3 separate regions of the Homo sapiens genome follow, and all the other regions are linked to region 3. The links come from fine-mapping of genetic effects on gene expression. A gene starts in region 3. Each other region holds a variant in brackets. All regions are shown on one strand. Distances are between the middles of the regions.

Region 1 (10,213 bases), 73 kb before region 3:
ACAATACAAAACCATATATATAAGGGCCAAACTGGTATGCAGCCGGCTGGGCGCGGTGGCTCACGCCTGTAATCCCAGCACTTTGGGAGGCCGAAGTGGGTAGATCATCTGAGGTCAGGAGTGCAAGACCAGCCTGGCCAACATGGTGAAACCTCGTCTCTACTAAAAATACAGAAATTAGTCAGGTGTGGTGATGGGTGCCTGTAATCCCAGCTACTCGGAGGCTGAGGGAGAAGAATCACTTGAACCTGGGGGTGGGCAGGGAGGCATGGAGGAGGCTGCAGTGAGCCAAGATCATACCACTTCACTCCAGCCTGGGTGAAAGGGCAAAACTCTGTCTCAAAGAAAAAAAATATTTGGTATGCAGCATTTGCAGAAACAAGACTGCACAATTATTAAAAGACAGTGGCAATGGTGAGGAAGGAGAAATCAAATTCAATGACTTTCCCTGGGCCAGGCACAAGGGCTAGGCATTTGGTACATCATTTTACTTAATTTAATCCCTAAAGCACTCGTTTAAGACAAGTATTCTTTTTGTTGGTTTGTTTTTGAGACAGAGTTTCACTCTTGTTACCCAGGCTGGAGTGCAACGGTGCGATCTCGGCTCACTGCAACCTCTGCCTCCTGGGTGAGTTGCTGGGATTACAGGTGCCTGCCACCATACCCAGCTAATTTTTGTTCTTTTTAGGAGAGACGAGGTTTTGCCACGTTGGCCAGGCTGGTCTCAAACCCCTGACCTCAGGTGATCTGCCCGCCTCGGCCTCCCAAAGTGCTGAGATTACAGGTGTGAGCCACCACGCCCAGCCTAAGACAAGTATTCTTATGCCACAATGAGTAACAAAACAGAGGCTCAGGGACCAGAGGCTTCAGGTAACATGTCCAAGGTCACACAGCTAGTGAGTGGCCCAGGGAGGCTCTAACCTGAGCCTCTTTCTAGACCTAACTAAGATCTGCTCTGAGCCTGCTGCGACATTGGCCAACCTGCAGGAGCTGGGAGGAAGCATGGAGACCCTCCAGTCCCCGTCTGCACCAGGGCAAGCGTGTGGTTCTCTCGGATCCTGCTCCTTCCAATGCTGGGGAGGCAGAAGGACCTCTCTGGGGCACTAAAGCTCATGGGAGACAGGCCCAGGACAGAGTTTCTGACTCCTGCTCTACTGCGGGCAGGATCGGGCAGGCGGGGAAGCCAGAGTCACGCTTTGAGAGCTTCAGACTGTGGGATCTTTTTCATTTCTCTGCTTCCTCACTGTTTCCTCGGACTGGCCTCCTCCTCCTGAGGGTGACAGAGCCGCTGTGCCCATCTGCAGCACCAATTCGGGGCCACTCCCCTGCAAATGCAGGTGAAGCTAAGCCTGGGCTGGAGGCCTGGGGGCTGGTGAATGCACCAAAGCCAGGCCAGAACCCCCACCTCCCACGCGGGACTCTGCTGGGAAGCTTGAAATGCAGGGAAATCTCTTGATGTGTTTCTCATCAGTAGAAAAGAATAGGAGGGTTTGGGGGTGGGGGGCAATTTCCAGTTCAGAAGAATCCTAAGATAAGAAACTCTGCTCTCCTTACAGTTAAAACAAACAAACAAAAAGCTTTCATTCAGAAGACCCACAGCTGCAAAGAGAAAGAGAGAGGAAAGAGAAGAAGGAAGGGGGGTGCAGGGGAAGGAGGTAAAAAAAGCTACTAAAATTTGGTAATGTTTTTTCCCCTCTGAATGTGTTTTTCCCATTCATTTTTCTTCTGCCCAAACTGGTTGGGGCGTGTGTTCTGAGGGAAGGGGGAAACTGATGTGTGTTAGAGAGACATATGTTGGAATAAGCAGCTCATAAACAGACTTTGACCAAAACTTTCCATTTAAAAGTAAACACACAGGAAACATGTCTCAACTTGGACTATGGTGATTAAGCAACTCAATTTGAGAAGATAAGGATTTTTTTTAATGTGTCTCAATGGTTTATGGAGGTTTTCTCCAGATGATTTAAAAATCAGCAAAAGTTAGGAATTAATGTGGAATCTCTGATGCTTCCCACGCTCTTTCCGTACCTCTCACATCCATGGCAGAGTCTCAGAGATGCTTTGACAAATAATGCAACACGAACCTTATGTAAGAAAAACAAAAGGTTATGAATGTGATCAGAGACTCTGGCCAAGAACATGTGCTTCCACAAAACAAGGACACCAGTTTGGCTCTTCCATGGAGATTTATGCAAAGGGTGGGTGTTATTCTCATCAATTCAGTGGATAAACAATAGGGGGGAGGTTGGGATGATTTGATGGACAGCTTTTGGAAATGATCTTCTGCTTGGCAAAACACTGCCGTGATCATTTTATTCACACGGAAGGAAATGCAAAGAAGTGTCACTAAAACAAGGGAGGTAATTGTAGGGCATGAATCAAAAAGCTGGATGACACAGAACGAAGAGTAACTGAATTAGTCCCATCACGGTCTTGAAATCTGCACTTAATTTCAAGAGAAGAGCCTGACCTCTCATTGCTGGCTAACAAAGCTATGCATCTATTCCCTCAAGTTTCATTTCCACCTTATAAACTACAAACACCATGTTGCAGAGGGATATGCCTCGACTGTCATGGCAGCCCAAGAAACTCAGAAACAACATCTCAAGAGCTGGAAGCGATAACCCTGCAGTTCTCCAGTAAGAGTTAAATCTTGGGACGACCCTGGCAGCTGGTTGTCTAGCCTCGACTGGCATCCCTGGGGGTAGCTCATTCTACCTTCATCCCCTTCATCTGTCCACCCACCCAACAACTCTAGCATTTACCCAGCTTCTGTTATGTGCCTGGCACACTGTCAGATGCTGTTCTGTCTTGACCCCAAATCCTTCTTTCTATAACTTCGATCCATCAAGTCCAAATCTGTCCTCTCTGATGGTGAGGATGGCTGGCATGCTAACCTTCTGAAGGTGCTCTTCCCGGGTTACACATTCCCTGTTCTTCAACAGTAACACATGGATGCCCCTGCCAACCTGATCGCTTTCCTTATCAATCCCCCATTCTATGTTCTTCAAATCTTTTATGAATGATGGGTTCCACTTCCCATCTAATTATACTGCACCTCTACTTCTTAATCTCCCTCCTTTGTTAATCTAGAAAATTTGCAAGTATTTAGTGTGACCAGAACTTGGAGAAGACAAAATGCTGAGATCAAAAATATTCTATGAGACCATCTTAGATGTGCTAACAGGTTTTTATTTTCTATTATTGATGAAAAATGTGCTATTTTTAAGCTTCTACAAGACAAAGTGCCGCCTGTTGTTTCACGTTGTACACGGTTGATTTCATGCACTTTTGACAGTTTTCCTATTTCTAACATGAGGATCAATTTCTCCTCCTCTGGGAAGGCGAGGGGTTTGACAAATATGCAGAATGCAGGTGAGCCCCACTTTGCAGACACTTCCCCCTCTAACGATGCCTAAGGCGTCGCTGTGCTCAGGAATCCTTGGCTGGCTATCCCGAGAAGTAAATACTCACCAAGCAAATCTGCAAAGACTCCAGGCACCTACTAGGCCCATCAACACTGCAACTTTCTTCTCATGAGGTATTGGAAACACAGAGTTTCTTTGGTATCCATCATCTCAGGAGTTAGGTCAATGGAAATTTATCTGTAGTAGACTTAAAGAACTTCTAACGCTTTGGCTATTAAAATACAAACCAGGGACTGAGGGCACCCCAGGAGGTCAGAAGATAAAAAGGTAACTCGGAGTGGTTCTCTCAGTCACGAGTTTGACTCAGTACCTGAGTAAAATAGATATAATCAGCCCAGCTACTTAAACATTCAACTTTCAAAGTGAGTGTGAAAACAGAATGAAATTGGATGACTGGGCATAATATTCATGAGCTACCCCTGATACAAAGTGCTCAAAGATAACAGGGACTGTTTTCCATTTAAATAAAACAACACAGGATTGACTCAGAATTAAACGTATAATGAACAGCATACCGAAGGCAAAATGCTGAGAACAAAATTATTCTATGAGACCAACTCAGGAAATATAATGGAAGTCAAAAGACAACATGATTTGATATGAAAATAAAATTATAGCCAACTAATGGATTTTTAAAGCTCCCACTGTCAATGAGCACTGTGTTTTTTAAAGAGTGTGCCCTTACAATTTAAGCCTTTCCTATTCTTCATCCCCTCCAATTTTTTAACAAAATATAATGTATATTTGGAAGTGCTACCACTTTGAAAGCCCCGGTATTCAATCCCACATCTACTTTACTGCATTAATTTACCACACTCTCCTACCTGTTTAGCACCATGAAGCTTCATATTGATTTTTTTAAATTTAATATTCTTTCAAAAATTACTCCCAGCAAAAAGTGCTGTTTAAACATAATCTTTCAAAATGCATAATGCCTCACGCTTTTAAATTAAACTTATCCAAATAAGTGTATTGAATATGAGGGGCATTTAAAAAACTATTTCGGGTTTCCATCAAATATGTTGCTTTCAAGTAAATATATTTGTAATAATGAAGCAACTAATCGAAATCCTTGCAATCTTTCTTTATGCTTGACTGAATTAACACTTGCAATGACACCACAATCTAACAATTAAAGTCCTTCAATGTAAGTTAAAACTGATTTCATTGTGGCTTTGCAGTGCTTCTGCCAACTATTAAACGCACAACACTCTGAATAACTAGAATGAAAGATGTCTTATAAATTAAAAAATTATTGGATCCTATCCAAGCAATGAATAAGCTATTCCTTGCTGTGTGCAAATTCAGCATTCTGAGTGGAGGAATTAACACCGTTATGTTAACAAGATTAACATTTTAAGGATTTTCTAATCTTCTAATTGTCTAAAAGGATGAGTTCCCTAAACACCTCAGTACCTTCCCCACCTCCTCCCAATGCAATTCCCCTATCTACTATTCCCAGCCTCACTATGACAGCCAAAGATTATTTACCTGGTGAACAATGACTGATAACTTTGTTAATTTGAATATACAGTGACCACTCTGTACAATTTCTATACCCTTAGCAGTATTACTCTATGAAGACATTTAAATTAAAAAAAAAAAAGGACATCAATAGGGCAGCAGGCAGGATAATAGAACTTGCTGAGTCAGCACTAAAATCTGCCATTTTCATTAAGAACCTCAATATCAGAAAGGCCAAAATCTTTGGAGAGGCCATTAATGTGTGTGGTTTTTTTTTTTTTTCTTTTTTGCGGCTCGTTAAATTCCTCTGAGGAAGCAAACAGAAACAGCTAAAAGGAGAAGCTTAAATGTCTGGAATTTATTCCAAAAAAAAAAAAAAGATGAGAGTAAAAGAAACTTTATTTTGGTTGGTTTGTTTGTTTTGAGACAGTCTCACTCTGTTGCCCAGGGTGGAGTGCAATGGTGCAATCTCGGCTCACTGCAACCTCCACCTCCCAGGTTCAAGCAATTCTCCTGCCTTAGCCTCCCGAGTAGCTGATTGCAGGTGCCTGCCACCACACCCAGCTAATTTTTGTATTTTTTGGTAGAGATGGGGTTTCACCACGTTGGCCAGGCTGGTCTTGAACTCCTGACCTCAAGTGATCCACCCACCTTGGCCTCCCAAAGTGCTGGGATTACAGGCGTGAGCCACCGCATCGAGCCGAGAAACTTTCTTGAAATGTTCTAACTCTGCAAATTTTATAGTCATCCAAAAAATAAATCTTTAGACCTAGATCAGCAAATGAGTCTTGTGGATTTTTCTAACTTTGTACATGTTAAGCCACAATACTTTACATGAAATATAGACTATGATGTCATTATTTTTACATTGAAAATTTTAAAGCAAAAAAAGGGAAAGCTCATTAAAGAAAAAAAAAAAAAAACCATCTCACTCAGTTTCTGACCATCTAACACCCAATCATGGTCAATCCATCATGGAGGCCAAAGGTACGTAGGATGCTGGGATTTCTTTGGAATTACCAAGGAAACACAAAACAACGCTGGCTCTGAAAACCAATCATCCAGGAAACTCTCCATAAACCATACTGTTTGATTAAATGCAAAACCTGTTCTCCAACCATGGTGAGAGAGGATTAAAATGTTTTTCTGGAAACTGACTTTGGATTGGTGCCTATAGCAGAGAAGGTATTACATAAGACCCATATATATGTCACTCTCTAAAAACAATCTGTTGTCATAAACATTATTATGGGGAGAGCTGCTGTTTATAGGGTGTTAATGTAGTGTTACGAAGTTTAAATACCCCCACTATAAGTACCAAAATCACAAAGTCAAGGTCACCCATTGAGGAACTGTCTTTTCATTTAACTGTCAGACA[T/C]TGAGAAAGGTTAGAAAAATAGAAATTTCCTAAAAAGTTGGTGGGAATGTGGACTAGAACCGAGTGTAAAATCAGAAGGCAATTTGGCAATGTCTACTGGAAACATTAAAATACGCATATTCTTTAATGAGAAATGACGTATCTAGGAAGGAGGGGCACAGGCAACATAAAGATTAGAACAGCTCAGTGGACTTTTCCGAAGAGGTACGGGCAAGCAACCCAAACACACCACCCCTCCTTCCACTTTCCAGATCTAGATTCCGAAGGCCCCACGCCAGAGTCTCCTTGGCAAAGGTGTAGATTCCCCAAGCAAGCTGGCGTGGCTCGGTGTGCATGAGTAGCCCGAGCTCAGCCACGGGTACTCTACAAAGCACAGTGGAGTGCCATTTCACAAAACTAACGTTCCAAGAACTGTAGTATCCAAACTACAAAGAGACCCCTCGTGTGGCTCAGCAGATCTTCCAGAGAATGAGGCAAAAGCAAGAGCCCTTCACAATCAGCTCTTCACTAAAGTAGGTCAGGCAACTCTCAGTGCTGCAGTGATTTTACTTTTCATTCTACCAAAAACAATCGGGATATCTAAAATTGATCAATGAGTCTGCATTTTGGAGACTGCTTTAAAAAAAAAAAAAAGGAAAGAGAAGTTACAAAGATAGCACAGAAAGCTCCTGCATACCCCTCACTTAGTTTTCCCTGATGTTAACACCATATATTACTAATAAGGCACTTGTCACAACACTGGTATACTACTATTTTTTTATTTCAATAGTTTTTGGGGTACAGATGGTTTTGGGTTACATGGATAAATTCTTTAGTGGTGATTTCGGAGATTTTAGTGCACTTGTCACCCCATAGATAGTCTTTTATCCTTAATCCCCCTCCCAACCTTCCCCCTACTCCCCTCCGAGTCCCCAAAGTCCATTATATCATTCTCATGCCTTTCCTTCCTCACAGTTTAGCACCCACTTATAAGTGAGAACATACGTTTTCCATTGGTTTTCCATTCCTGAGTTACTTCACTTAGAATAACGGCCTCCAGGCCGGGCACAGTGGCTCACGCCTGTAATCCCACTTAGGGAGACCGAGGTGGTGGATCACAAGGTCAGGAGTTCAAGACCAGCCTGGCCAAGATGGTGAAACCCCGTCTCTACTAAAAACCACAAAAATTAGCAGGGCTTCATGGTAGGTGCCTGTAATCCCAGCTACTCGGGAGGCTGAAGCAGGAGAATCACTTGAACCTGAGCGGCAGAGATCGCAGTGAGCCGAGATCGCGGCACTGCACTCCAGCCTGGCGACAGAGTGAGACCCTGTCTCAAAAAATAAAAGAAAAGAATAATGGCCTCCAGCTGCATTTAAATTGCTGCAAAAGACATTATTTTGTTCCTTTTTATGGCTGAGTAGTATTCCATGGTGTATATATACCACATTTTCCTTATCTACTCATAGGTTGATGGGCATTTAGGTTGGTTCCATATCTTTGCAGCAGCAAATTGTGCTGCTATAAACATGCAGCATACTACTATTACTATTAACTAAACTGCACAGTTAATTCATATTTTGCACATTTTCCCCTAATGTCCTTTTTCTGTTCCAGGATCCCATCCAGGACATCATAGGACACATTTGCTCATCATGTCTTCTTAGTCTCCTCTGGTCTGTAATAGATTCTAAGACTTTCCCTGTTTCTGATGACCTTGGGGCTTTGAGGAGTGAGGATCAAGTTATTTTTGTAGAATGTCCCTGCTGAAGGACAAAATCATTGTTTGATGTTTTTCCCATGACTAGACAGGGGTTATGAGTTTGGGGAGAAAGACCACAAAGCTGAAGTGCCAAATTTATGATGTCCTACGAGAGGTACCCGGTATCAACATCACATCACTGAGGATGGTACTTTCATCACCTGTGGCATACTGTTCACCAGGTTTGTCCACTCCAAACTCCCTTTTCCAACCTTTTCCATGCTCTCATCTTTAGAAGTAGGTCATTAAGTGCAGCCATTCCAGGAGTGGAGAGTTCCGTCCCACCTCTTTCAGTGGAGAAAGAGCTACATCAAGCATTTGGAACCCTCTGAATGGGAATTGTGTCTCTTCTCTCATTTATTTGTTTGTTTATTTATTCAATCATTTATTTCTATCAGTCTGGACTCATAGGTATTTATTTTATATTTCCAGTTATAATCCAACACTATGTTATTTATTTTGCTGCTCATCACCGTCCCAGCTTTGGCTACTAGGAGCAACTTCAGGCGAATCCCTTTGACACCCCTGCCCCCCACCCCACCATTTTGTTCTTTAAATATTTCCTTACTTTCTGCTTCTCCATATATTCATCAGCAAAATGTCTCCCTTAAGAAAAGGGTTGCTATGGGGTGATTTATGCCTCCCCAAAATTCCTACATTGAAGATCTAGCCCCCAGTACATCTGAACATGACCTTATTTGGGAACAGGGCCATTGAAAATGTAATTAGTTAAATAGGATGAATTATTACGGGAGAAAGATGGGCCTCTAAGCCAATACGACCAGTGTGTCCTTACAAGAAGGGAAAATTTGGACATAGACACCACATGGAGAAAACGAATGCCAAGTGAAGGTGAAGGCAGAAATCAGAGTGATGTTTCGACAGGCCAAGGAAGGCCAAAAGCATTCCAGCAAAATGCCAGTAAACCACCAGAAGCTAGGAGAGAGGGGTGGAACAGACCCTCCCTCACAGCCCACAGAAGGAACCAACCCTGCCGACACATTGGTCTCGGACTTCCAGCCTCCAGAACCTTGAGACAGTAAGTTTCTGTTGTTTAAGTCACTTGGTTTGAAGTACTCCACGCTGAGCTCTGCACTTCGATTAAAAACAATTCACAAATTTGGTATCAACAAAGCAGGTGTGGAAGAACATCCTAACATACATTCAAAAGGGCACTTTAGAAAACAGAGGCATGGGCCGGGCGCGGTGGCTCACGCCTGTAATCCCAGCACTTTGGGAGGCCGAGGCGGGCGGATCATGAGTTCAAGAGATTGAGACCAGCCTGGCCAACAAGGTAAAACCCCATCTCTACGAAAAATACAAAAATTAGCTGGGTGTGGTGGCGCCTGCCTGTAGTCCCAGCTACTCTCAGGCGGCTGAGGCAGAAGAATCCCTTGAACCCAGGAGGCGGAGGTTGCAGTGAGCCAAGATTGCACCGCTGCACTCCAGCCTGGAGAGAGAGCAAGACTCCGTCTCAAAAAAAAGCAAAAAAGGAAAACAGAGGCACGGGTCTACACATCTCAATATTTAGCATGGTATTTGGATGTGAGCAAGGTCTGGGCAGTGCTCTCAAATGTCTCGCTTTTCCCGCAGCATTTCCAGCCACCTGCAGCTCAGTTCAGAGTGACATTTGCCAAGCACACCTGCAAGTCCTAGCAATAACCGCCCATCTAGTATAATCACCATCTTCTTCAGGATGCTAAGTACCAGCCCCATGAAAGCCAAGCACTTCCCAGGTACCCCTCACAGCGATCCAGCAAGGGGCTGACGGGTGATTCCCCGCATCACAGTGGACCCAGCCAGATCACGTCAATTCGGCATTTTGGGGTCCCTGTTTAATGACTCGGTGTTTCACTTCCATCTTCTCTAGGTCATGTCAACAAGTGGCCTGATGGCTTAGAATTGAACCAAATGCCACATCACTGTTAAGACACAGAAATATTGTACAATTACCCAGTGTTCAGTGGCTTCAGTGCAATTTCACACACTAGAGGATCCTGAAGCAAACTCTCAGCTTTCAGATGAAGGGATGACAGTCCCCAGGAAAGAGAAAGTGACTTGTTCTCATGGACTTAAGGCATGGAAGAGGCAGACTAGAATCTCATCTGTCATCTCCCTCCACCGCCAGTGACCTCTGTGGAGGTGAAATCTAAGCACCGCATGGGCAGAAGCAGAAACTGGTTTTTTTTCCCCCCTCAGTCAAC
Region 2 (10,213 bases), 26 kb after region 3:
TGAGACCTACTGGGCTGCATTCCCAGACAGTTAAGGCATTGACTGCTATACTCCCACCAGTGCCATGAGAGTTTACAAATGCCATGGCAACATCAGGAAGTTACCATGTATGATCTAAGAAGGGGAGGCATGAATAATCCACACCTTGTTTAGCATATCATCAAGAAATAACCATAAAAATAGGCAACCAGCAGCCATCAGGGCTGCTCTGTCTATGGAATAGCCATTCTTTTATTCCTTTGCTTTCCTAATAAAGCTGCTTTCACATTACTGTAGGAACCCAACCTGAATTCTTTCTTGTGCAAGATCCAAGGACCCTCTCTTGGGGGTCAGGACTAGAACCCTTTATCTGCAACAGTCATAATGGCTAAGTTTATTGAGTGGTTACTACATGACAGACAATGAGCTAGGGTTTTATCTGCTTTATGTCACAGAAGGCTCCCAACAATCAAGGTGAAGTTGGTTGATCAAAGTAGATGGTTAACAAATGATAATGAATGAACGACTGCTGTACAGATTTAACTAAGATTATATTTAGCATGCATAAGAACACATTCTTTAGTAATTCCAAAATTAGAAAATTAAAGTGTCAATAAAAATCATACAAATATAATTTAGTTAATGTTTATTGAGAACTGACTTACAAGAGGGCTGACCATGAAACACTGAAGCTGAAAGCTCAAGTCTCCTCACTCCCACTGGCCCCTTCTTGGGCCCTGGGATGGGTCCCAGCAATGTGCTGAATGAGCACCTTCAGTAAATAAGATGAGTCATTGTACAAGAACATTTAAATGCCATAAAATCTGACGCCTTATATATGAAAGAAACTTAAGGTTTTCCCAAATTTGAGAGTAGTCCTAAACGTTTACATGGTGTTACCAACAACTAGTTGTGAAGCTTACAAATTTTTTTCTTAGCTATCAATAGTGAAGAACAAATCCCAACCATTCAGGCTGGAGGAATAAGAAAATTGAAAATTATCTTCTATTCTCTCTAGAGATAATGGCATTCCAAAATCATTGTCATATGAAGAAATGATCAGAATATATAGCCTAAAATATGTAGGAAGAAAAATAATGTAACATATCAAACAGATAACAAGTAATCATATTTTATTTTTCTGCATTTTGTGATGTAAGGTTGTCAGTTTCTTAAACATATACTTCCTTGTGTTTTCTTTCATCATTTGAAATCTATACTCACTCTTATATCTGGTACTTTTACATTCTTTTCTTTCTTTTTTTTTTTGAGACGATGTTTCACTCTTGTTGCCCAGGCTAGAGTGCAATGGCGCAATCTCGGCCCACTGCAACCTCCGCCTCCCAGGTTCTAAGGATTCTCCTGCCTCAGCTTGAGTAGCTGGGATTACAGGCATGCACCACCACGCCCAGCTAATTTCGTATTTTTAGTAGGACAGAGTTTCTCCATGTTGGTCGGCTGGTTTCGAACTCCCAACCTCAGGTGGTCTGCCCACCTCGGCCTCCCAAAGTGCTGGGATTACAAGCGTGAGCCACCACGCCTGGCCTTACATTCTTTTCTTAAAGAGGTACCCACCCCTGCCAAATTGAATAGGCTTTCAGGCCACACAAAGCCTGCATCCAACCCTGTGTGTGCCTTCTATATGCTGGGCTCATAGCTTTACACAGACTAGCTCCTCTAGCTCTGCCAATAGCTCTTTGAGGTAGGTACTCTCAGAGGCACGTAATCCAGAGCAACTCCATCATGAATAGGAGCTGGGTAAAATGAGGCTGAGACATACTGAGCGGCATTCCCAGATAGTTAAGGCATTCTAAGTCTCAGGATGAAATGAGAGGTCAGCACAAGATGCAGGTCATAAAAACTCTGCTGATAAAACAGTTTGCATTAAAGAAGCCGGCCAAAACCTGCCAAAACCAAGATGGTGACGAGAGTGACCTCTGGTCGTCCTCACTGCTACACTCCCACCAGCACCATGACAATTTACAAATGCCATGGCAACATCAGGAAGTTACCCTATATGGTCTAAAAAGGGGAGAAATGAATAATCCACATCTTGTTTAGCATCTCATCAAGAAATAACCATAAAAATGAGCAATGAGCAGCACTCAGGGCTGCTCTGCCCATGGAGTAGCCATTCTTTTATTCCTTTTTTTTTTTTTTTTGAGACGGAGTCTTGCTCTGTTGCCCAGGCTAGAGTGCAGTGGTGTGATCTCTGCTCATTGCAAGCTCTGCCTCCCAGGTTCACGCCATTCTCCTGCCTCAGCCTCCAAAGTAGCTGGGATTACAGGCGCCCGCCACCACGCCCGGCTAATTTTTTGTATTTTAGTAGAGACGGGGTTTCACCGTGTTAGCCAGGATGGTCTCAATCTCCTGACGTCGTGATCCACCCGCCTCGGCCTCCCAAAGTGCTGGGATTACAGGCGTGACCCACCGCGTCCAGCCTCCTTTACTTTCTTAATAAACTTGCTTTCACTTTACTCTATGGACTCGCCTTGAATTATTTCTTGTGCCAGATCCAAGAACCCACTCTTGGAGTCTGGATTGGGACCCCTTTCCTGTAACGGTGCTATTATCCCCATATTACCTAGGGGGTACCTGGGCCTCAAGCAGGTTAAAATGACCTGCCATGGTTATCCAGCTAAGAGGCAGACTTGGCACTACTCCCACCAGTGCTGCTTCTTGGCCTGCCTACCCCTACTAAGGCAAGAAAAGGAAAAGACCACCCCTTCTCTGATCTAGGGGTGCTTTCCTGGCCTCTGGCTGCAGCAGCAGCCTCCTGGTAACCTTTATAGGCCTTGGGGATACCAGAATATCTCAAACGCATGGAGCAGAGAGACCCCTATTTCAGTACTGTCAGGCCTCTGAGCCCAAGCCAAGCCATCGCATCCCCTGTGACTTGCACGTATAGGCCCAGATGGCCTGAAGTAACTGAAGAATCACAAAAGAAGTGAATATGCCCTGCCCCACCTTAACTGATGACATTCCACCACAGAAGAAGTGTAAATGGCCGGTTCTTGCCTTAAGTGATGACATTACCTTGTGAAAGTCCTTTTCCTGGCTCAAAAAGCACCCCCACTGAGCACCTTGCGACCCCGACTCCTGCCCGCCAGAGAACAAACGCCCTTTGACTGTAATTTTCCTTTACCTACCCAAATCCTATAAAACGGCCCCACCCTTATCTCCCTTCGCTGACTCTTTTCGGACTCAGCCCACCTGCACCCAGGTGAAATAAACAGCCTTGTTGCTCACACAAAGCCTGTTTGGTGGTCTCTTCACACAGATGCCATGAAAAGTACACTGCAAAGCAGTGCGTTCAACCCCTGTCAACCTGTCAATGGGCAACAGTGGGACTCTGCAGTGGGTTAGTAATAGGCTCTTTTCTTTGATGTTATTTATGGTTTCAGGTGATGCTAACTAGGCTGTAGCAAGGCAGACATGATGGCAATGGTGGGTTCACGTGTCCAAGCCATGAAGAGGGGCTGGATGCTGACCTCTTTAGGAGAGAGGATGGGCACAGGTCTGAATGCACAAAAGGAACCCCTGAATTAAGTATGAGAAAGTGGCCGAGGCTCCGGCTTCCCTTCCTCCCCAACCCTGCCCTTCCCCAAAGTCTTATCTCTCAGCCTTCAGGCCAACTCCCCCAGAGGCCTTTGCACTGTCCCAACCTGCTGGGCCCTTTCCCTCCTCCCTGCCTCGATTCAGAATAACAACAACAACTGCATCTGCATAATGCTTTGTGACTGAAGAACTCCCCAACGACTCCATTCACTAACACCAGTCTCTCCTGGAAAACCCTCCTCCCAATTACCTGAACCCTATGTAACCCATCCTCCCTGCAGAGACCTGAACCTGCTAAATTTTTCATACCATTCACCTTACGTTAAAAAGGATGAAACTGAAAGGTGATTTGTGATTTACCTTCTTGGGGCAGTAATAAGCCGGGGCAAGAGGAACACAGGGAACCAACGGAACACATTGCCTTTATCTTATACTGTTAAAATAGCCTCGCTGATCATTACAGGCGCTCTTAATCACTTTTAGGGTCTAGGCTCTGCCCCAGACACCCTACTAGCTGGAACAGAAAGGGCATCATCCTTCCGCAGGGTTGGACCAAGGGCTACCAGATTGGGGTATGGATATGCAAAGTCCCCAAGAAAGAGACAGAAAGAGCTCAGGTCCAAACCTGCCAAGTGGAATGCATTAACATATCTATGAAATAAAGCGTCCTCTTGAAAGGAGGGAGGGGGGTGGAAGTAGGCAGGAAGTTGGGATCCTGGAGGGTCCCTATGGATTCCACACAGGTGACAGCTCTTCCAAGCCCCACCCAGCACACTGGCAGCATTAACCCTGGCCTTGAGGTTGGGATCTCAGCACCAATGCTGAGTTACACAGGGGGCTGAAACCGGCTGACTTTTTTTTTTTTTTTTTTTTTTGAGATGGAGTTTCCTCTTGTTGCCCGGGCTGGAGTGCAATGGCATGATCTCGGCTCACCGCAACCTCCGCCTCCCAGGTTCAAGCGATTTTCCTGCCTCAGCCTCCCAAGTAGCTGGGATTACAGGCATGCGCCACCACGCTTGGCTAATTTTGTATTTTTAGTAGAGATGGAGTTTCTCCATGTTGGTCAGGCTGGTCTCGAACTCCTGACCTCAGATGATCCATCCACCTCAGCCTCCCAAAGTGCTGGGATTACAGCCGTGAGCCACCGCGCCCGGGTGAAACTGGCTGACCTTTCCAATGACACTCAACATTCAAATCATCCAACCTTCCCTTCCCTTTTCCCACGCTCATCAAGCCACTTTCAGGCAGTAATAGTTGTCACTGTAAATTAATGCACAGGCTTTCTGATTTGCTACACCTGTGTCTGAACTTAGTTAACAGGTTCAATCTTGGGAAACAGGTCTGCTCTCTCGGCTGAAGACAGTGCATGGCAGTGAATGTCACATGCTGAGGTCTCCTATAACTGCACCCAGCGCTGCCACTGGCCAAAATGACTCCTATCTTCTGAGCAAGCTAAACAGGCACAGTCTGCCCAGCAGCTAGTAAGCCTTAGAAATCTTTGCCAAGTGAGAGACTGATGGATGTGCTCTGGGAAACAACGGATCCCTGAGTTGTATGCAGTGTGTCCCCAACATGTCTCCCTTGTGACCACAGCCCATGTCCATGGCCCACGGGATGACTGGCTGTCTACTGCTTGAAGATCTACAACTTCCCAGTTTTACCCCAACCAGCCAGTCTTCACTCCAACCAGCCAGTATTTACTCCAACCAGCCAGTCTTTCCCAGCCATGGATGTAATTTACACATTAGCCTACACCCAACTGGAGGGCCTGCTCAGTGTTCAAACCAAAATGGTGAATGGTCTTAGGTGCTTTCACACTACAGTGCCAGAATACTACAGTTGCAACAGAGACCATATAGCCTGCAAGCCTGAACTATTTATTCTCTGGCCCTTTACAGAAAAGGTTTGCCAACACCTGCTCTAAAGGAGAGAGGATAACAATAGCAGAAGGAAACTTGGGTTCAAGTGCTGTTTCTGCCAACGGCTCAGCAAATTGCAAATAAGCAAAATGGAGCCCAGCAAGTAAAATACTGGTGAGGTCATGCCAGTATTTTCATCTCTCTGCTTCCATTTCATTCATAAAACAGGACTAGTCATGAGTGGTAACTGCATGACAAATAATTAGCTAATACCACAGAATATGCATTTTAAACGTGCAACAGGGAAAACTGGCTATTTGTTTTCTGAAGGGAAAGAGGTCCTCCCTTGGTATAGCCATATTTTATGGCTGGCACAAAAAGTGTTCCTTTTTAGCCAGCTGTACTGTGCATATTGTTTTCATTGGTGTTTATGGAGCCCCTGGGACAGGCAGGGCACTGAGCTGGTTGTAGCCCTCCAGGACATGGGACTTCAGTTAAAGACAATATGTGATAAGGGAAACTGAGCTCATCACCACAGGCTGAGATATTCAAGGAATGTTTTGGTTTTTCAAAAAAGGAAAAATACAAATAGTGCCTGGGAGGAAGGGCAGAACTTCAGAGAAAGGAAAGGGGAGGGGAGAATATTCTACCGTGTTCTTTACTGGCAGGCACAGTAAAACAAAAGCTCAAAGTGAGGAAACCTAAGAGCAGATTCAGAGAACCAAGAAATGGACCAATTCATCTGAGTAGGAGTCCCTCATGGGACTGTCAGGAAAGATGGTTGCAAAGGTAAAGTTGGGGCCGGGCGCAGTGGCTCATGCCTGTAATCCCAGCACTTTGGGAGGCCAAGGTGGGCGGGTCACCTGAGGT[C/T]GGGAGTTCAAGACCAGCCTGACCAACATGGAGCAACTCTGTCTCTACTAAAAATACAAAATTAGCTAGGCATGGTGGTGCATGCCTGTAATCCCAGCTACTCAGGAGGCTGAGGCAGGAGAATTGCTTGAACCCAGGAGGTGGAGGTTGCAGTGAGCCAAGATCATGCCATTGCATTCCAGCCTGGGCAACAAGAATGAAACTCTGTCAAAAAAAAAAAAAAAAAAAAAAGCATACTTGGAAGCAGACTATGAAGAAATCCGAAATCTAAACCCATAAGTTTGTATTTTATCCTAGACAATGGGGAGCCATTAAATGTTCCAGAGAAGATGGGAGAGAGAGGTGGAGATGGCATTATGAAAGTGGTATTTTAGAAGATTAATCTGATCATACTATATAACATGAATCTGAAGAAACTGAAATATAGAGGAATTGAAATTGAAACACAGGAAATAGCTGTCATACTGGAACATTCTTTTGATGGGCGGGGGCGGTGGGGAAGAAACCAATTCTTTATTTTAACTTATATTTTCCTCTGTATCCCTAGTATCTCATATGTTTTACTATCTGTTAATCACTGCTAAATAAGCAAAATGGAGCCCAGCAAGTAAAATATTTCACATAAAAAAAAAAAGAAACAACATAGGTCAGGCCTTAGTGTAAGTTATCACTCTTTCAAGAGGTATAGGTTTATAAGGTGTAATAGTTGGCCTTTGATTTCTAATCACAAGTAGGAGAAACGGTTATTATAGTGAGCATGAAGGCGGCTGTATCTCTCTCTGTCAAAACCCAATTTTATCATTTACAACCCCACAGAAAAACAGCTAAAGTAGCTTTCTCTGTATCAGGTTTCATCAGAAATAAGATTTTGCCCTTCCTAAGTCTCTATATTCCGCAGCTTCCCGATGTTCTGTCACTTGATGGATTACAACACCCATCACACATTCCCTAGCTTTAGACATCTGTTTTTATGGCTGCAGTGGAACTTGCTTCTTAGTCTGGGAGGCAGTTCAGAGCAGAGATTTAAAATGTTGCTTCAAGGCCAGGTGCAGTGGCTCACGCCTATAGTCCCGGCACTTTGGGAGGCCGAGGCAGCAGTATCCGTTGAGCCCAGGAGTTCAAGACCAGCCTGGGCAACATAGCAAGACCCCATCTCTACAAAAAAAATACAAAAATTAGCTGGACATGGTAGCACATGCCTGTGATCCCAGCTACTCAGAAGGCTGAAATGGGAGATCGCTTGAGCCCAGGAGGTTGAGGCTGAAGTGGGCCATGATTGAGCCACTGCACTCCTGACTACCTAGGCGACAGAACAAGCAGAACAAGACCCAATCTCAAAAATAAAATAAAATAAAAAAAAGTTGCTTGCAAGCAGACTAGGGTTTGAATTCCAGCCTCTGCTACTCTAGTATCCTCGGGTATACCCGACTTCTGAACTTGAGTTCCCCATCTGTAAAATGGGGATGGTGACTACCTATTTCAAGCAGTGTCATGACCCTTAACTAGGAAAATGTCCCCAAAGTACAGTGTTGGGCACTTGTGTAAGGCTCAATCAATGGAGCTGCTGTCATTTTGTTTGCCTGGGGTGCAGTGAGATTTGGGTAAGCAAGTTAGGCCAGGTACACCAATCATGCCTTGTTTTTATTTGCTGGGCAAGAGGCACTTCCTTAATTTAATTATCATATGGCTAATACAGGAACTCTTTTTCATTTCCCCAGTTGAATACATCACCAGATTCCTGGAGGACCTGGGCCCTGGAGACCAAAAGTGCCCAGGGATTAGGGCTTCAGCAAGGCAGCCTGGCTGCTGTCCTGCCTCCTGGGGAAAACTCCAGGCCTTTTCACACTGCCGTAAAATCCCCCAGGGTCCTCAGAAGAGACCAGAGTTTGAGATCTCAAAACCTGGGCTGGAGGCCACAGAGGTCTCTCCCACACTGTGTGGAGGAAATTCAGCGTGGTCCTCTGACTCATTCAAAGTCTCACCACAAGTTTAAGGAAGATGGCTGAGCATGGTGGCTCACACCTATAACCCCAGCACTTTGGGAGGCCCAGGTGGTGGAATCCCTTGAGCCCAGGAGTTTGAGACCAGCCTGGGCAACATAATGAGACGCTATCACTACAGAAAACTTTAAAAATTAGCCAGGCATGGTGGGGGGTGGCGGGGGTGGAGGACATGCACCTGTAGTCCTAGCTACTTGGAAGGCTGAGGTGGGAGGATCACTTGAGCTTGCAGTGAGCTGTGATTATACCACCGCACTCTAGCCTGGGTAACAGAGCGAGACCCTGCCTCAAAAAAAAAAAAAAAAAAAAAAAATTTTAAGGAAGAGTTGGGTCTAGAACCCAGGTCTGATTCCTTCTTTTTCTCTCCTTCCTAAAAGTCTTTTTTTTTTTTTTTTTTCTTTTTTTTTTGAGACAGAGTCTCACTCTGTTCCCCATGCTGGAGTGCGAAGGCCCAATCTCGGCTCACTGCAACCTCCACCTCCTGGGTTCAAGCGATTCTCCTGCCTCAGCCTCCCGAGTAGCTGGGATTACAGGCATGCGCCACCACGCTCGGCTAATTTTTGTGTTTTTGGTAGAGACGGGGTTTCACCATGTTGGCCAGGCTGGTCTCAAACTCCTGACCTCAAGTGACCCGCCTGTCTTGGCCTCCCAAAATGCTGAGATTACAGGCATGAGCCACTGTACCTGTCCCTAAAAGTCACTTTTTTAAGAAATTACAAAAATCATAATGACCACTGTGGACAACTTAGAAAAGAGTTTTTCTATTTATTTAACAACAATGGAATCACACTGTAAATACACTTAGTACTCCACTTTTTTCTACTTCATATTGTATGAAATTTGTTTCTACAACAACAAAATTGTGAGCTCCATGTGGGCTGAGACCATATCTGCCTTGGTTGTCACTACACACTTTTCACACCTACCAGGTGCCTGGCACATAGTAGGCATTCAATAAACTGCAGAGTGAGTGAATGACCCATGGTTTGGCCACTTGCCACTTTTTGGATATTTAAGTTATTTGCAGTTTTCCACTATTATGAACAAGGCCAAATGAACAGCCAGATTCATTAATATATCTTGTACAGATCTCTATTTCCTTAAAATGAATTCCTGGGCCGGGCACGGTGGCTCATGCCTGTAATTCCAGCACTTTGGGAGGCCAAGGCGGGTGGATCACCTGAGGTCGGGAGTTCGAGACCAGCCTGACTAACATGGAGAAACCCCGTCTCTACTAAAAATACAAAATTAGCCGGGTGTGGTGGCATGCACCTGTAGTCCCAGCTACTGGGGAGGCTGAGGCAGAAGAATCGCTTGATCCCGGGAGGCAGAGGTTGCAGTGAGCCGAGATCGCGCCATTGCACTCCAGCCTGGACAACAAGAGCAAAACTCCGTCACAAAAAGGAAAAAAAAAAAAAACGAATTCCTAAAAGCAGAATTGCTGGGTCCAAGGGTATTCCCGTTGTAATGCCTTGGATACCTGATGCCAAATTGGTCTCTGTAAAGACAATCTTCATTTACTTCCTCCACCAGTCATACAGGAGAGTGAACGCCTAGTTTTCTCCACAGAGATGAGTATGTGAGTTAAGAAGGTGGGCGGCGGGAAGGAACTGTGAAATCCTTCAGCAGGTGTTTTAATGAAAAACTGAGGGCTAGACTCAAAGTTCACTCTGATATCCAGCAACCCCACATAGTATAAAGTGTCTTTCTGAACTTTCACCAGCCCTCCCTCTGACATCCTCTCTGTTGAAAAACACTGTGTGGCACCTAATATTGCCACGAGGAGAAGTACCAACTCCCAGCATCCAAATATATACTCTACTAGGAAACACACCCCATGCCTAGGAGACCGGCAGGCTCCCAAGGGCCGCACAAAAAAACCCAGTCTTTCCACATAAACAGTGACCCACACCAAATCTGGGTCTCTCTGCTACCAAGTCTGTTTTG
Region 3 (10,213 bases):
AAAAGAAAACCTTGGGTTCCAGACACAGAGGCTTACCTGACTCCTCTCTTTGTCCACTTTCTTAAAACACTTATTCAATGATAAATTGTGTCTCACTGAGTTTTTCCACCCAGTAGGTGCATTTGCAAAATACGGAAAATGTTCCAAGATCCAGTTGTAGATATCCTTCACTGGCAGGCGCTTGGTTGGAGAGTCCTCGATGGCCATAAATATGAGGCAGCTGAAGGAGTAGGGGGGTTTGCAGTTGGGGTTCTGCCTGGCATCGTAGGGCATGTCAGAGTGGGCAGGGGATGGGGGGGTGTCATCGTCCAGGTCCTGGACGGGGCTGACACTCCTGAGGACCGACTCCCCAAAGCTCTTCAGCAAGTTCTTGCTCTCGTGCAGCCAGTTCAGGTTGGTCAGCTCTTCATCTTCCATGGCCCCCTCTTCTAATCGGATGTCAGGCAGAGAAAAGTCGAGGTCATCGTCTTCCTGAAGGGCCTTGGAGAAACCGCTGCCCCCGTAACACTGACTCAGTCCACTGGAGACACTAATTCCTGAGCTTTCTGGCTTCTTACTGGGAGGCATGACTGGACCCATTTACGTGAAGGCTCCTAGTAAAGACATCACAAAGAAATGATGAGCTGGCGAGGCCCAAAACAGAAAGGCAGACTGTACCCCTCTGATCCTGTTGCCTCCCTCTGCCGCCTCTATGGAACCCCTGCTACACAGGAACACCACCTTGTGACTCCCACACTAAGCAACACAATCCCACAATTCCACCACAGAGAGATAGGCTGATGAGAAAAATCAGCCCGCCATTCATATAGCAAGGTGACCTGATGCCCCTTAAATAAAATAAGACCAGTAACACCGGCCAGGCACGGTGGCTCACGCCTGTAATCCCAGCACTTTGGGAGGCTGAGGCGGGACGATTGCTTGAGACCAGGAGACCAGTTTTAAAGTACGTTAAATTTTACTGTGAATTATTTTTTCTTCCAGAACAGAAGAAAAGCAAGTAACTTCAGGTACCACACAGAATACATGGGAATGTAAGATAAGCCATTAACTGAAATTAGAGCTGGTGAAAAAAGTCAGGAGAGCAACTGCCAGTTTCAAGACAGCAAATTCAATTCAATTCAACAAAACATGCCATAGAATTCTATCCCTCCACCCCGACCCACCACCATCCCCATTTTTATCAATGACCTAGAACACGGAGTAAAATAACATCTGATGAGAAAAGAAAACGAGGAGGTGGTACGTTTACAAACAGAATGACCCCTACAGACACAAAGCATGTTCAACCCTCCAGCACCCAACGTAACACAGAAAGAACAGTAAAGATAACCAAAAAGGTCTCCCACTCTCCGTAGCGCTAAAACAATATGCTTGGTTTAAAACTGTTAGGTTTTAATTCCCCCCACAAACGAACAGTAAGAAAATCAAGCATCTACCTAGAAAACAAATGAACAGGCTGGGCATGGTGGCTCACGCCTATAATCTCACCACTTTGGGAGGCTGAGGCAGGAGGATCACTTGAGCCCAGGGGTTTGAGACCAGCCTGGGCAACATGGCGAAACCCCATCTCTATGAAAAATACAAAAATTAGCCGGGCATGGTGGCATGTGCCTGTAGTCCCAGCTACTTGGGAGGCTGAGTGGGAGGACTGCTTGAACCCAAGAAGCTGAGGCTGCAGTGAGCCATGACTGTACCACTGCACTCCAGCCTGAGCAACAGAGTGAGATGCTGTCTCAAAAGTTTTGAAGAAGGTAAGGAAGAAGGGAAGGGAATGGAAGAGAAGGGGGAAGGGAACGGAAGAGAAGGGGGAAGGGAACGGAAGAGAAGGGGGAAGGGAAGGGAGAAGGGAAGGGAAGGAAGAAGGGAAAGAAGAAGGAAAAAAAGAAGGGAAGGGAAAGAAGAAAGGAAGGGAAAGAGAAGGGAAAAGGAAGGGAAGGGAGGGGAGAGGAGAGGAGGGGAAGGGAGGGCAAGAGAAGGGAAGGGCAGGGAAGGGCAGGGCAGGGCAGGGCAAGGGGAGGAAGGAGGAAGAAGCGGGAGGGGGAGGAGAAGGGGGAGGAGGAGGAGGGATGGAGGAGGAGGAGGAGGAGGAGAAGAAGGAGGAGGGATGAATGAACATATTTAAAAGCAAAGACATAGGCCAGGCATGGTAGCTCATGCTTATAATCCCATCACTTTGGGAGTCTGAGGCAGGAGGATCCCTTGAGCTCAGAAGTTCAAGACCAGCCTGGCCAACATGGTAAAACGCCATCTCCACCAAAAAAATACAAAAATTCGCTAGGTGTGGTGGTGTGTGCCTGTAGTCCCAGCTACTTGGGAGGCTGAGGTGGGAGGATCACTTGAGCCCAGGAGGTTGAGGCTCACTGCACTCCAGCCTGGGCAACAGAGGGAGACCCTGTCTCAAAAAAATAAATAAATAAAATTAAAAAGGCAAAGACATGACCCTTCTATGTCTCTTAAATGTTCATTAACACCACATCTAAAACAACTGCCACTTCAGCTGTGGAAGCTCTATTAGGGAATTCTAGAAGGCATAATCCTGGGCACTAACCTACCAGCCAAGGGTGCCTGTGAATTATAGTACCTTCCCTCTTCCAAAAGGTAGAACCTGCTAGACGCAAGGCCTAAGGGGGAGCTGTGGTGAGAGGCCCAACCGGTTTTTTTTTTTTTTTTTTTTGAGACAGAGTCTCACTCTGTTGCCCAGGCTGGAGTGCAGTGGTGCAAAATCCGCTCACTGCAACCCCTGCCTCCCAGGTTCAAGAGATTCTCCTGCCTCAGCCTCCCAAGTAGCTGGGACTACAGGCGTGTGCCACCATGACTGGTTAATTTTTGTATTTTTAGTAAGACGGGGTTTCACCATGTTGGCCAGGATGGTCTCAATCTCTTGATCTCGTGATCCACCCGCCTCGGCCTCCCAAAGTGCTGGGATTACAGGCGTGAGCCACCGCGCCTGGCCAAGATGCCCAACTCTTAAGGAGAGAAAACTTCATGAGGCATTGCAGTACAGACCAGGCAGGATGCTCCAGACGTCTTGGGTTCACTCACAGGGAATATTTCTTTCTGTCAAATAAGGAGGTTACCCTGACACATTTCAGACAAAAAACAAGCTAGCATCTTTTGGCTTGGGGATACAACAGAGTCTGGTCTGATCCTGCTTTTAACTTCTTTATGAACGAATTATAGCACCACTTGTCTTTCTTAAAGTTTCCTCAGATCCCATCAGAAAATTTTCTGATGACCAGCATATGCCCACAGTAGAGTATAAAACAGAACTACCCAGCCACTGAAGTCAACTTTAGCTCTAAATGAAAGTTTTATGTCTCCTGAGCTTCCAAACAGGAAAATTATATCATGGCTGACAGTAAAGTAATTTAATTGCACTGTTGCTATGACAACATGCTGCTCTCTTTCTTTTTAATTTGCTTATTTGTCAGTAGCTTCCCAGAGGAACTAACACGCTATTCTCCATGTTTCCTTTTGTTTTAAACAAACACTGCCAGCAATATGGTTTTAGGAGAAAAAGTGGCATTGTCACGAAGAGAGGGTTATGGGAGTTCAGTACCCTTGGATCATGTGTGCGTTTTGTGCTGGGACCCCGTACTCTCCAACCACTCACTGCATCCCTATAAATCCCGCATTTTATACCAACAGGGTGAAGAGCTGCTGATCACTACAGTTCCATGTAAAAACAAAACAAAACAACAATAACCAAAAAAAAAAAAAAAAAAAAAAAAAAACAGTTCCCAGAAACCACAGCTGAGGAGTTTTCCATTATTATACTCTAACTACAGATTTCGCCAAATCTTTTTTTCCTCCTGTTTCAGAGGGAAAAAAAAAGAATCTGGATCATGTGAGTTGCAGTTAAGCAAACATTTTTAATCTGCTGCCAACAAGGCTGCTCCACCAGATACGCAAATAGTTATTCACTGGTGACCTCCTTACAACTTTTCTCTACACACACACACACACACACACACACACACACACACCCTCTTTTGTTTTTTTTATGACTTGCTGTGTTTTGTTACCCTCTTTATTTTTTAACGGAGAAAATGCGGCAAGAAAGCTTAGTTTCTCGCCTAGTAAACAGAAGGTCTCCAAATAACTGACAAAGACATTACTGGCCCAGCTCTGAACAGATGTTCGATGCGAACTTTAAAAAGTTAAGAAATCTTCCCAGAGCCGAGCAGTAGCGAGTTTGGGGGGCCGGGTCACCCCCGCCCACCCAGCACGCGCGCGCGCGCACGCACGCGCTTCACTCTCGTCTACTGTACTTGTCAAAAACATTTCAAGGGGACCTGCGGGAGTGGCGATTGGCTGCACCCCGCGTCAATCAGCGGCGTTGCCGGGCAACGGGGGAAACTGCTCTTATCCCCATATACAGGGCAATTGGGAGCTCGCATACCTTCACTGCCGGTCAGATGTCATAAACCTTTTATTGGCCGCACCGCGGCGAGCCTCGAAAACAAATCAATAAAAGCCCGCCGTCCCCCAACTTATCCAGGGCCCAAGGAGGGTTTCAAACAGGGCCGGGATGAGGGGGGTCGGGCCTCGGGGGTCTCCGGAGACGTTCGTTGCCTGTGCCAAGTCTGCACAGTTTGGCCGGGGGGTGATCTTTGTTAGGAGCCTGTTTCTCATCTTGGGGTCTCCACTTGATCGGAACCCCCTCCCCGGCCCGGAACGGCGGGGACCCCGTCCTCCGCAGACAATACCAACTCTGTTCCTTGCGGGCGTCTTTTCGGAAACCGAGGCACCGGGAAGCAGCACGCACGTCGGGGCAGGAAACTCTTCGGACCCGGCAACTTCCCGGCTCGGGGGCTCCCGGGGTCCACACCCGACCCTCCCCCCAGGACCTGCGGGGTCCCTCGTCTTCCCAGAGCGGCGAGGTAGTCTCCAGGACCGTCTCGGACGCGCCTCCCGCCCCGGGTGCCCCCCGAGCCCACGCGGGAGCCGGCAGGAGCGGGGTGCAAACTCACCTGGCCGGAGCGGGGCACGGGGGTGCGGGGGCGCCGCTGCCCTTCAGCAGGAGCCGACAAACTTTCGCGGGCGCCCGGCGGGCATCGCTCGGTGGCCCCGCTAAGGACGCGCGGGCGCGGCGCGGCGAGCCCGGGGCGGCGGGCGGCGGGGGGCGGCCGCGGGCGCGGGCGGCAGGGGCGCGGGGGTCGCGGCGCGGCATGGGACCTGCGGCGTCCGCCGGGCGCGCCGCGCGTCCTCCCGCCGGCCCCGCCGCTCTCCCCGCCCCGTCCCGCCTCCCGCTCGCCTCCGCCGCGGCGCGTCGGGCCGGGGCGCGCCGAGCGGCGAGAAATTGTTTCCACTGCAAACAAAAAAAGGCGACACATGACCAGGCAGGAGGAGGGGAAGCGCGGGGAGGGAGGAGGGCGGAGGGAGGGACAGAGCGGAGGGCGGAGGGAGCCGGAGAAAGGGAAAACGTGGGCCTGGCCGCCAGCGGCCTGGGGCGCGGGGCACTGACCCGCCGGGGCGGACCCTGCCCGCGCCCCTCGCGCGCCCCAGCACTCAGCCAGGGCGGAGGCCGGGGCTGGGCCGCGCGGCCTCGCCTCTTGGGCCCCGCGGGGCGGGGGTGACCGGCGCGGGTCCCGCGACCCAGGGCGGCCGCGACCGTGGGCGGTGGGGCAGGTGGGTCAGGCGGCGCGTGCCCTGTCCCCTCCCCGGGCTCCGGCCACACGAGCGGGCCGGCGCTGCGCTGCTGGCAACGTGTCGCGGGAACGCTCCTACCCCATCTGCATGCCTTACATGGCTCGAAAGTAAAAATAAAAAGAATTACGATGCGGGCGAGGCTTGTGGGGGTGAGAAGAGGAGATTCCACGTCTCCCCAGTGCTGCGTCCTGATAGGACCCCCAGGGCCTTCCGAGCCCTCTCCCAGCGACCACCTCGTGTCCCGGAGGTAAGCACCGCAGCGTCCCACCCAGGTGGCCGCGTGTCTCCCGAGGGAGGGCCGGTGGCCATTACAAGACAAGAGGCACCGTCCTAAAGGCCACGCCGGTGGGGCCTCTCAAGTGGGTTGTGCGGAACGCCCCGGCCGGCCTAGAGAGAAAACAGGTCTCATTTCCATCTCAGTTTGAGCTCTCAGGAACCAGACTGACAATTCGCAAGCCACCCAGCGAAATGGTGCAGCCACCACTCTAAGTCTCTAGGCACCTCCAAATAATAGCACCCACTGCTAAAGCCACACCAACCAGCCGCCTTGGGAGAGGATGAGAGGAGAGAGTCCAACAGGACACCCTGGTGGTGACAAAAATAAAAATGTGATTGCACATTACTCCCAGGTAGCCAAATTGGTTGGTTCCTCTACAGAGGAGAAGCCCAGGGCACCCTTCCTGCCACCCCCTCCTGAGCCAGTGGACAGGACATCGTGAGCGGTCTGAAAACTACAGAAAAAAACAGCGAGTAGACCTGGAGAAAGCTTTCTAGCATGCAGTACTTTTAAACCTAGCCAAAAGGAGGGACTAAGGGAAACACCAGTTAGGCTTCTGAAAATTTTTTCTGTCTCAAAAAATAGACCCCCCCCCCCCAATCTGAGAGTCATTCCCCCTAACAAAGGTTCAAGAGGGCAGGTGACAAGTCTTCAGCAAAGATGTGCCTTTCAGACTCACCGGAGACCTTACTACTTCCAAGTTGTGTGGCATCTCCCCATCTGGAGACAATTAGGAGGTGGAAGCCCAGGGGTAGCCTGAGGTCATCCAGCCCCACCCCTTTGATTACTGAGCACTTGATGCGACCTACCCAAAGTCACTAAGCAAAAGGCACAAGGTGGCAGAGACAAGTCAGATGATCTTTGAAGTCTCACGCCAGAGATTCTCAGGGTTAGAAGTGGTAACAAAGCCAGGATGAGACAATGTGTACCCTGCTTTCCTGTAGCTCCGGCTAATGCAGGTCCTGCCCCTCCATCAGCGCGTCAGTTGAGGGTGCTTATTCTCCGCCAGAGGAACCAAGGCCAGAGACCTTTGTCCAAGCCCTTGCTGGCCTAGAGAGGACGAAGTCGCCCCCTTACATCTTCCTCTTCCATCCCCAGCCCCCAACCCCACCCCCAAGTCCCCCAGCTACACTCACACAATAGCCAGAAATCTCTTTATATTAAGTAGAGGTGGCACCTTATTTTCACCGGCCCCAGTCCCCTCCTGCTTTCTCAGAGTTCAAAAAGAGGGGATGTGAGCCAAAGGTGATTGTACATGGAATATGTCATTCCATGTGTGTTTTTGCTTCTTGCATTCTCAAACATATTTCTTAATTTCTCTCTCCCATTACAGTTGCAGCAAGAGATGTGAGAAGGTGTCACCCTGAAGAGGAAGTGGTGGACCAGCCCTGCCTGATGTGGACAGCAGGGGACACATGTCTGCCTGTCGGTCTATCTGAAATGGGGGAAAAAATGCTGAAAGCCAAAGGAGGGCTTAATGTGGCCTTTTCCACCTTCTAATTCCATAGAACCTCAGCTCTGGGACTTGCTTCCTGACCTAGGGTGCAGGGGCCAAATTTGTTTGGGAACAACCCCATTCACAATTCCCCATGAACTTTCAGAAAGGACCCTTGCGTCTTAGGTCCTGAGAAGTCACAAATAAGCAAGCTGCATTGTCTAATGTCTTGTCTACACTGTTTTACAAACACATTTAACAGCCGAATTGTATATGTGCCCTAGAAATCACTTTGAGAAACACTTATTTCCTGATAGAGGACTTGATGGGACCATTCTGCAGCCCCATCTGAGCATGGGCTGGAGAGTACATAAGTATCTGGGAGCTGGAAGTCCTCAATTCCAGGCTTATCTGCCCCCATCAGCGTGGGACCTCAGTTCCTCCTCCAAGGAGAAGAGCGCCCCTCCCTTGATGTTTTGTGCATTCTTTTGCTAAATGTTTCTCTGGTCAAGAACTTTAATCCCCCTACACACACACTGTATTGGTTATTAGAGCAGCATGGCTATTTATGGAATAGTTAAGTATAAAACCCGATATACCTTGCCCCCCTTGAGGCAGTACAACTGAGTAGGTGAGCAGGTGCAGTCGGGAAGACCTGAGAGACTGCCCAAAATAGGAAGAGTCCGAGGCAGGCCTGGAAAGACAGTCTTCTGGGGAGGGATCCTGCAAAGAGACTCCAGTACAAAGGATATATGAGAGGAAATACGGGGAGGCTGGGCAGGCACACACCGCTGGCCTGCACAGAACCATATTCCTTTCGTGCTTCCCTCTATAGGTGACTCCACTCTCTACCCTGCAGGTTGGCTTCCTCTGCTCAATGATAACCACACAGGGCTGCCAGCAGCAAGCCCTGAGGCCTTCTGACTTTTAGCACCCACCACCTTTGAACTGCCTCAAGCCTTCCATGACATAGTTTAACTTCTCAGGGAAATAGTGCGATTGGCCTAGCCTGAGTCACATGACTCCCCTACGCGCATGGCCCCCCACCACTCCCTACTGCTAACAGCTGAGACAAGGGACATGGTGAAACATCTGGGGAAGGGAGGGGAGATGACTTTGGAAGTGGGATATCTAATAAGGGTGGGTTGCTGTTTAACCTGTGGAAATGGGGAAGGGGTGTTCTTGACCTGAGCTTCTCACCTGGGGATGCCCATCAGAACCATCCAGAAGCCACACCTAACCAACTAGAGTCTTCTAGGATGGTGCCTGGATATGTGTATTTTGAGAAAGCACAAGGGGATGATTTTGCTTACAAACTGCTGTTCCAAGAGAAATCGATGGCACAGAATTACCAAATCTGACTTGATTGTAGTAGAAGAGGAACTCATTCACTGAACAAATATTTGCTGAGTGCCTACCAAGTGCATGGCATTGTGTTAGCTGCCAGAGATAGACGGTCTTTGTCCCTAAAGAGCACACAGATTAGTGGGTAAGAGTGCAAGCATCATATCACCAAACTCCTTGAATAGCAGGGTGAGCAATTTATATGTGTTAAGGTCAGAGGGCAAAGGTGGCTCACTGAATATTTTTGAGCCCAGAAGTTGTATTATCAGAGATACGAATTAAAAAAAAAAAAAAAGATAAATGGGGATGGTGGATCCAAGATGAATTTCGGGAGAGGAAGAGAGAAACTGGAAGATCAAAAACCAGCAGAACAACTCAGAAATCATTGCAGTAATTCATACAAAACAGAATGAAGACTGTTTAAGAAAAAAAAAAATTGGGGAAAAAAGGCTAAAATAGTGGTTCCTTCTGAATGTTAGAGTTATGGGATACTTCTTTTTTGTGTGCTTCTTTCATACTTGTCCATATTTTCTTTCTTTCTTTTTTTTTTTTTTTTTTTTGAGACAAGAGTTTTGCTCTTGTTGCCCAGGCTGGAGTGCAATGGCACAATCTCGGCTCACTGCAACCTCCACCTCCCAGGTTCAAGTGATTCTCCTGCCCCAGCCTCCCGAGTAGCTGGGATTATAGGCATGCACCACCACACCTGGCTAATTTTGTATTTTTATAGAGACGGGGTTTCTCCATGTTGGTCAGGCTGGTCTTGAACTCCTGACCTCAGGTGATCCGCCTGCCTCAGCCTCCCAAAGTGCTGGGACTACAGGCATGAGCCACTGCACCAGGCCAAACATATTGCTGAGAATTCATGTGAAATCGTGCAATTGTCCGTGTGGGCAATTGGTTTATGGTGTTTCCACCCAGGGAAATTTTTTTTTTTTTTTGAGATGGAGTTTTGCTCTTGTTGGCCAGGCTGGAGTGCAGTGGCGCCATCTTGGCTCACTGCAGCCTCTGCCTCTGGGGTTCAAGCAATTCTCCTGCCTCAGCCTCCCGAGTAGGTGGGATTACAGGCATGCACCACCACGCACGGCTAATTTTTGTATTTTTTTAGTAGAGACGGGGTTTCTCCACGTTGGTCAGGCTGGTCTCGAGCTGCCAACCTCAGGTGATCTGCCCGCCTCAGCCTCCCAAAGTGCTGGGATTACAGGCGCGAGCCACCGTGCTGGGCCCCGCTATTTTTCAAATGGTCTACAATAAACACCCATTACATATATACATACATATATACATTAATTTATTTGACAGAGTCTGGCTCTGTCATCCAGGCTGGAGCACAGTGGTGCAATCGTAACTCACTGCAGCCTCGAACTCCTAGACTCAAACAATCCTCCTTCCTCAGCCTCCAAGTAGCCAGGACTACAGGCGCATGCCACCATGCCAGGCTAATTTTTCTGTAGAGATGGGGTCTCGCTATTTTGCCCAGGCTGGTCTCAAACTCCTGGTCTCAAGCA

Which allele goes with the higher level. Alleles are on the strand shown, and positions count from the first base shown. SD is a standard deviation of normalised expression in the study named. Not every link is listed here.
In carriers of allele C in region 1, the expression in whole blood of the gene that starts at base 5,336 in region 3 tends to be lower than with T alone (small effect, 0.17 SD a copy in GTEx).

What was found. PIP is the estimated chance that this variant, and not a neighbour inherited with it, causes the effect.
Region 1: its variant is the best candidate, but not a certain one, in a credible set for the expression of FOXN3 in whole blood (GTEx, PIP 0.71).
Region 2: its variant is the best candidate, but not a certain one, in a credible set for the expression of FOXN3 in whole blood (INTERVAL, PIP 0.89).

What each region holds. Positions count from the first base shown.
Region 1 is chr14:89,338,468-89,348,680 of GRCh38, forward strand. All of the region lies in intron 3 of FOXN3 (forkhead box N3), which reads right to left. Among named protein-coding and RNA genes, the nearest start is that of FOXN3-AS3, 6.7 kb to the right of the region's middle. RefSeq lists enhancers at 886-1,155, 1,678-1,972, 1,874-2,375, 2,376-2,875. The variant T/C (reference allele first, on the strand shown) is at 6,271.
Region 2 is chr14:89,437,533-89,447,745 of GRCh38, forward strand. It overlaps a transcript of FOXN3 not described here. Among named protein-coding and RNA genes, the nearest start is that of FOXN3-AS1, 25 kb to the left of the region's middle. RefSeq lists enhancers at 2,677-3,260, 3,513-3,807, 3,847-4,430 and a silencer at 3,513-3,807. The variant C/T (reference allele first, on the strand shown) is at 6,267.
Region 3 is chr14:89,411,898-89,422,110 of GRCh38, forward strand. FOXN3 (forkhead box N3) reads right to left here and starts at 5,336. Exons shown (of 6, transcript NM_005197.4): 1 at 4,974-5,336; 2 at 37-593. The coding sequence starts at 579. It overlaps FOXN3-AS1 (FOXN3 antisense RNA 1), which reads left to right and starts at 5,457. Exons shown (of 2, transcript NR_036500.1): 1 at 5,457-5,899; 2 at 7,263-7,896. RefSeq lists enhancers at 4,188-4,482, 4,497-5,030, 5,031-5,563, 5,188-5,482 and silencers at 5,178-5,387, 5,428-5,717.